2 linked regions of the Homo sapiens genome follow. The protein of the gene in region 2 purifies or fractionates together with the protein of the main gene of each other region. This does not show direct contact. Each region holds a gene or a part of one and is shown on either strand. Other genes may lie near its edges. The genes, in order: ANKRD30B and CFAP299.

Evidence for each region.
Region 1: the proteins of CFAP299 (region 2) and ANKRD30B purify together in Homo sapiens (affinity purification with mass spectrometry, with the first as the bait; one large-scale study listed by BioGRID). This does not show direct contact.

The regions. Positions count from the first base shown.
Region 1 is NC_000018.10:14,754,523-14,758,358, forward strand, and holds part of ANKRD30B (ankyrin repeat domain-containing protein 30B), read left to right. Parts: intron 1-376; coding exon 377-483; intron 484-3,292; coding exon 3,293-3,430; intron 3,431-3,836.
Region 2 is NC_000004.12:80,863,425-80,867,260, reverse strand, and holds part of CFAP299 (cilia- and flagella-associated protein 299), read right to left. Parts: intron 1-3,836. UniProt on the Homo sapiens protein: May be involved in spermatogenesis.

The sequences.
Region 1 (3,836 bases), on a different chromosome or scaffold from region 2:
TAATATTATAGATTACTCATTTAGTCAAAAACAAAGTATTTACTACTATGTCTTAGGGTTTAAGGATATAGAGATAAAAGATACAGCCCTTGCCCTCATGAAGCTCTTGGTTTAGATGGGAAACCATAAAATCATTACAATATAATGATTTTTGGAGATAACCAGAATTAATGTGGTGATGCAGAGGCTGAATATTTACAAGGGAAGGTGCAGTGCATGGGAAAGCACAGAAAAAGGAGAAAGAAGGGACTGCTATTGATTTACTTATTTACTTTCTACTTTATGTGTTTAAGTTAATAGGATATAATATAAGGTATTCAGTTCAGCTGAGAAATATGTAATTTCATGAATTATATATTGTTCTGCTATTTTACAGGCTAGCCTCACACCCCTTTTACTGGCCATACAGAAAAGAAGCAAGCAAACTGTGGAATTTTTACTAACAAAAAATGCAAATGCAAACGCATTTAATGAGTCTAAATGGTATGGTAGTTCTTTTTTTTTACTAAAAAACACTTGACTAGTGTTCTAGAGTAATAATGCTCAAGTCAGAAATATTAAATTAACAACATTTAGTTAAAATTATTAGATTATAGTGAAACATATCAACACAAATTATCAGAAGAAAAGCAATTATTTGGACTGGTCAACATAAAAAACAGTGTATAGTAGGACTTATCTTCTCTTATTATATTGACTGATTCTTATTTGTAATCTGATGATTTTGGTTGCATTATTTTCTATTAGCTAAAGTGGTTCTGCATCAGTTTTAAGAAGTATGAACTTTTTTAGTTTGCTTTATAATTCAATATTGAATTATTAACAGTTTTATAGTATTTTTCTAACTTCTCTTTTTTATACACTTTTTTAATTTCTTTTTTTATTATTATTATACTTTTAAGTTTTAGGGTACATGTGCACATTGTGCAGGTTTGTTACATATGTATACGTGTGCCATGTTGGTGGGCTGCACCCATTAACTCGTCATTTAGCATTAGGTATATCTCCTAATGCTATCCCTCCCCCTTCCTTCCCCTCACCCCTCAACAGTCCCTGGTGTGTGATGTTCCCCTTCCTGTGTCCATGTGTTCTCACTGTTCACTTCCCACCTATGAGTGAGAACATGTGGTGTTTGGTTTTTTGTCCTTGCGATAGTTTGCTGAGAATGATAGTTTCCAGCTTCATCCATGTTCCTACAAAGGACATGAACTCATCATTTTTTATGGCTGCATAGTATTCCATGGTGTATATGTGCCACATTTTCTTAATCCAGTCTATCATTGTTGGACATTTGGGTTGGTTCCAAGTCTTTGCTATTGTGAATAGTGCCACAATAAACATACGTGTGCATGTGTCTTTATAGCAGCATGATTTAGAGTCCTTTGGGTATATACCCAGTAATGGGATGGCTGGGTCAAATGGTATTTCTAGTTCTAGATCCCTGAGGAATCGCCACACCGACTTCCACAATGGTTGAACTAGTTTACATTCCCACCAACAGTGTAAAAGTGTTCCTATTTCTCCACATCCTCTCCAGCACCTGTTGTTTCCTGACTTTTTAATGATCGCCATTCTAACTAGTGTGAGATGGTATCTCATTGTGGTTTTGATTTGCATTTCTCTGATGGCCAGTGATGGTGAGCATTTTTTCATGTGTCTTTTGGCTGCATAAATGTCTTCTTTTGAGAAGTGTCTGTTCATACCCTTTGCCCACTTTTTGATGGGGTTGTTTGTTTTTTTCTTGTAAATTTGTTTGAGTTCATTGTAGATTCTGGATATTAGCCCTTTGTTAGATGAGTAGGTTGCAAAAATTTTCTCCCATTCTGTAGGTTGCCTGTTCACTCTGATGGTAGTTTCTTTTGCTGTGCAGAAGCTCTTTAGTTTAATTAGATCCCATTTGTCAATTTTGGCTTTTGTTGCCATTGCTTTTGGTGTTTTAGATGTGAAGTCCTTGCCCATGCCTATGTCCTGAATGGTATTGCCTAGGTTTTCTTCTAGAGTTTTTATGGTTTTAGGTCTAACATGTAAGTCTTTAATCCATCCTGAATTAATTTTTACACCTTATACACTTTTTAAAAAATGCAATATTTGCTGGGCATGGTAGTTGTTGCCTGTTATCCCAGCAGTTTGGGAGGCCAAGGTGGTTGGATCACTTGAGGCCAGGAGTTTGAGACCAGCCTAGCCAATATGGTAAAACCGCATCTCTACTAAAAATACAAAAATTACTGCCATGGTGGCGCATGCCTGTAGTCCCAGCTACTCAGGGGACTGAGGCACGAGAATCGCTTGAACCCAGAAGGCAGAGGTTGCAGTGAGCTGAGATCATGCTACCACACTCCAGCCTGGGTAATAGAGCGAGATTCTGTCTCAAAGGAAAAAAAAAGCAATATTAAATAGAAACAGGAGTTTAAAACCATTTTGTCTTTAGGACGACTATTTGCTTTAATAAAGTTGTTTTCTTTGAAGCATATTAATTTTAGGTTATCCCTATGTGACTGACTATTAATTGCTATCACCAGATACTGTGAATTTATTATTTTTTTCATTTTTTTCATAGTGTATTTTTATTTTTAATTTGTATGGGTAGAGGGAAGAAAGACATCTTTAATTTGATTAATATTTTAGTTAATTAAGATAAGCCATAGGTGAATGATAAAGAGAAAAGAGATAGGCTTTTGATTCACACAAGACTGAGTTTAATTTCTAGCTTCCTCACTTGATAGGTGTGACCTTGCAAACATTACATAATACCGAGTATGACTTTCTATGTGAAAAGGAGAATAATGATATGTGCTTTAAGGATGATTGTGTTGAAGTAACATTATAAATATCAACAGCATTTAATTCAGTGTCTCATACATTCTTATCAACATCATTAACTAAACTTACTATGACTACTACTAATATCATTATTCCTAATATTGTTTTAAGCCTTCAGATTGCTCTCTCTTGTCTGACTTCTAGCTGATTTTTAAGTATAAAATATTATATCAGACTAAGCAAGAAATAGATAATTCTTCCCTTAAATCTTTGCCTCTTTTAGGTTAGTGAACAAATCATAATTCCTTGCCCCTCAAGGGACTTTATGTTAGCCAATTCTAGTATGCCACACCCCAGTGGGACATGAGTCTTTTTGCCCCTTCCTTTTAGATTTGGTGGTGATTTGCAAGGATAAACACTTGAGCACTCAAGATACTTATGTTTGTTAGTACATGTAAATGGTTAATTCTACACTGATAGGCACATATTAAATTGATTCTGCTCATAATAAGTTATCTCTTTGTTATTTTAGCACAGCCCTCATGCTTGCCATATGTGAAGGCTCATCAGAGATAGTCGGCATGCTTCTTCAGCAAAATGTTGACGTCTTTGCTGAAGACATACATGGAATAACTGCAGAACGTTATGCTGCTGCTTGTGGAGTTAATTAGTAAGTGTTTACATTTAAAGGCTAGGTGAAATTTTATTGTTTGTTTCAGGGAGTTTTTGAAAGACAGTGACTTAGTTCACTTCATCAGCCAGAAACTAGGCAAAAAGCCAGACTAGTTAGAAGGAGTACTGGGTCCAGGATTCTTTATTTTAGGACTTTCAACAGCTTTATCCCTAGGGATCCTAATGTTGACTGCTTGATTTGAAGTATAACCCCTAGGCTCGGGATAAACACAGTGTCACAATTTTGATTTTTCTAATTAGTTATTTGGGTCTGGAAATGTCCACTTCGGCAGAAAACCTGATAATGTCCCCTGGGGGCTGTCTTCCATACCTTAATACTTGAATTTTTAAAAGGAATCTAAGGGGTTCCTTAAGTCCAAGGAAGACATTCATTTTGCATAAGT
Region 2 (3,836 bases):
AGACAAAATGGATTTTCACATAAAAACCATTACTAGGGATGGAGCTTCACTACATAATGATACAAGGTTAATGTCATAGAAAAACATACAATTCAAAACTTGAGTGAACCTTTAAAAACAAAGTTTCAAGATATTTAAAGCACAAATTGATAGAACTAGAAGAACATATAGACAATTCATGATCACCTTGATGAATTCACTGCCATTATTTCTAGATTAAGCAGAAAATGAATACATAAAAATTATAAAATTGATGTCGATTTAAAGAACTTGAAAACAAACGTGAAGTCTTGGTGTTTATCATAAGCTAATACCAAAATTTCTTTACACTTCATTGTTCTTGTAAGTAAAATGACTGATAATCTAAAATTATATACATTTGGCCATAATTTCACTATTTTATGTTACTATATATAGCCTTCTTGGGTCAGTTAAATCCCCTTTTCCCTGAAACCTGATTAAATTTATTTCAAATATCACTTCTCCAGCTCTGTGAGAGTTAAATGTCTGCTCTGTGATTTTTGTGAATTCTTGGTTTTCTGATGCTGGAGGACTTTAAGTGAGGTCAAGCGGACTATAAGTGCGGGTCCCTCTAGAATCATCGTATACAGCCCTGGGCAAGTCACTCAAACTACTCTCAATGTCTCACTTAGATTCATTAGTTCTGTGCTCTTAAGCACCTTCCTGAAAAATCCAGCAAGTTTCTACCAAAAACAAAGCAAAACAAAAACAAACAAAACAACAGAATCCTGCTTAAACCTGAGCATTTAACTAGTTTGGCCATTGAGCAGCCTCTTTCTTCATGATTCTCCTTTAAGTATGTAGAGCAACAGAGACTCCCTGCCTGCCTGGAACTGCTTAGCTTACATTCATGTGCTGTCAGGGTCATCTGCCCTGAGCACCCAATTTGTAAACATCATGCAAATACTGTTGTTTATTTTCTCAATTAGAATTCTGGTTATTAATCATTGTATCTATGATTTTTTTAAATTTTCAACCAGAAAATGCCCAATTAAATTTTTTAAACCTAAGCTTCTAAATGCAAAAACGATAATCACCTGTGGCTGTTCTCACACAAACCTGCATAGAACAAATGTAAATTCCCTCATTATGTCTTTCCAAGTATGGTTACATATGTGTAAAAGTATAAGAAGATTTGGGAAGATATATATATATATATATATATATATATATATATATAATACTTTAAGTTCTACGGTGCACAAGGTGCAGGTTAGTTACATATGTATACATGTACCATGTTGGTGTGCTGAACCCATTAACTCGTCATTTACCTTAGGTATATCTCCTAATGCTATACCTCCCCCCTCCCCCCACCCCACAACAGACCCTGGTGTGTGATGTTCCCCACCCTGTGTCCAAGTGTTTTCATTGTTCAATTCCCACCTGTGAGTGAGAACATGTGGTGTTTGGTTTTTTGTCCTTGCCATAGTTTGCTGAGAATGATGGTTTCCAACTTCATCCATGGCCCTACAAAGGACACGAACTCATCATTTTTTATGGCTGCATAGTATTCCATGGTGTATATGTGCCACAGAATCTACAAAGACTTGGGAAGATTTTTAAGAAGACTTTTTAGTGAAATTTTTAAAAAGTTTGCTAAAATAAAATATTTTTCTAATGAACACAATGCTTTATTAAATTATTTTTAAAATCCGATTGGAATTATTAGTATGTAGTAATTGCTGACAAATTGTCAGGAAATTACAACTAAACATTTAATTTTAGAAATACATCTTTTAAATGGCACAGTTGAGGGTTATAGAGGCAGAAGAAATGATAACACTGATAATCAGACAGATGTGGTGGCAGATATTAATAGTTGTCAAGAACTTGAGGGTTGGTTGAAATTTCACTGCCTTATTTATATTTTGTGGATTGCCTAAGAATTTGAATGAAGTTAAACTAACAGTCTCAGTTAATTGTGTATTCATTTCAAAATGCATATTTTGCTCCAGAGTTAATAGTAATTATTTCTTCTATGAATACTTGTTATCGTTTATTAAGAAGCCACTATATTCTGAGTGAAGTTTTAAAAGCTTCACATTCATTATCTCATTTAATTGTTTCAAACATTTTATTATGGCTAGATAGCATTATTACCCTCATTTTATAAATGTGGGAGATGAAAGCATTGAGAGTTTTGGTAACTCCCAAGGATATGTAGCTAGAGAGGGGAGCATCCAAACTCACACCCAGCTTGGCTTCCCATGATATTCAGGTTCTTATCTACTGCATGATGGATAGACTTGGATTCAAATGCTGGCTCTGTCACCTACTTACTGTGTGACACTGGTAAGTTAGTAATACATTTTAAAATTTAGTTTCCTCTATAATAAAATGGGCATAATAATACCTAAATTGGTGTGTGAATTAAATAACACTATTTTGCTAAGCCCTTGGTAATGCCTGATACATGGTAAGCACTCAATAAATAATATCTATTGCTTTTGAAAACTTTTGTCATTAATGTTGCTATTGTATTTGTAGCATGTTAAGAGTTTTATAAATTCCTTAGGGGATATGGAAATGGAATAATCATATCAGAATTCCATTGCCTGGTGTATATAGTTATGTTAGGGTTGCCATACATGGTTCAGTTTCTTTCTTAAGTTTAGTTATTCACAGTTAAAACTTTTTATATAATTTGAAGCTAAAATTGAAACAAACGTTTTAGTTATTATATATATATACCTATATATACGTATATGTATATATACGTATATATAGGTATATATGTATATATATGTGTATATATGTATACACATAGGTATATATATACTTATATAGGTATATATATATATATATACCTATATATATACACATACACACACATATATACAAGACACACCCAATTGACAATAAAACCACTATTGTGGCATCCAGAATGGGGCAAATAGGTCAAAAGAGCCCCTTGAAGAATTAGGTTTATTTCAGCCTGAGTGTGATGTATTTCAGTAACTGAAAGCTTTGTTATTCAGAGCCCTATAGACTTAAGAATAATTTTAAAATGTTATAAATAATTGCTTAGGTTTAACTAAAAACATTTTTAAATAAAAGCTTTATTTAAGTATAGTTTACTTAACATAAAAATTCACAATGAAGTTTAAGTGATTTCAATGATTTTTGGTAAATTTATGGAGTTGCACAATACAACTCCAATTTAGAATATTCTCATCACTCCCAAGAGATCCCTTATGACATTTGTAGCCATCCCTATCTCCACCCCCAGCCCCAGGCAATCACTAATCTACTTTCTATCTCTATAGAGTCTCTTTTCTGGATTTTTCATAAAAGTGGAATCATACAATATATGATCTTTTTCATTCTAATAACATTTTTAATCACAGTTAATTTCCCAAAAGACACATGAAAACGATACTTTATATATTAAAAGGCTTTTAAAAATGATGATGCTATGTTTATAAAGGAAAAACTTCCAAAATTCATATTTTCCTTAGATAAAACCCTTTAATCCTATCTAGAACAAGTCAAGGTACAACCAACAAAAGCATTAAAAAAATCACATGCTATTCATTTGAAGCCATGAATACGGATCTATTTATTGGCAACCTAAGCAGAAAATACTAGTTTTTGGTTAACCATGTAAAAAATCCCCACATGAACAAGCAATGAAGAAATATCAAGACACATTGCTTCTGATATTGAAGTGGGGAATAAGACACCAAGGGGCATGTAGAATCTGAGATTTTACTGAGGGAGCCTGTGACCTCAAAAGTGAACCAATGTTAGTTGAAAAGACTTATGCAATACTTAGTTAGGTCCTCATTACCTCTCATATATTGGAAAAAGAT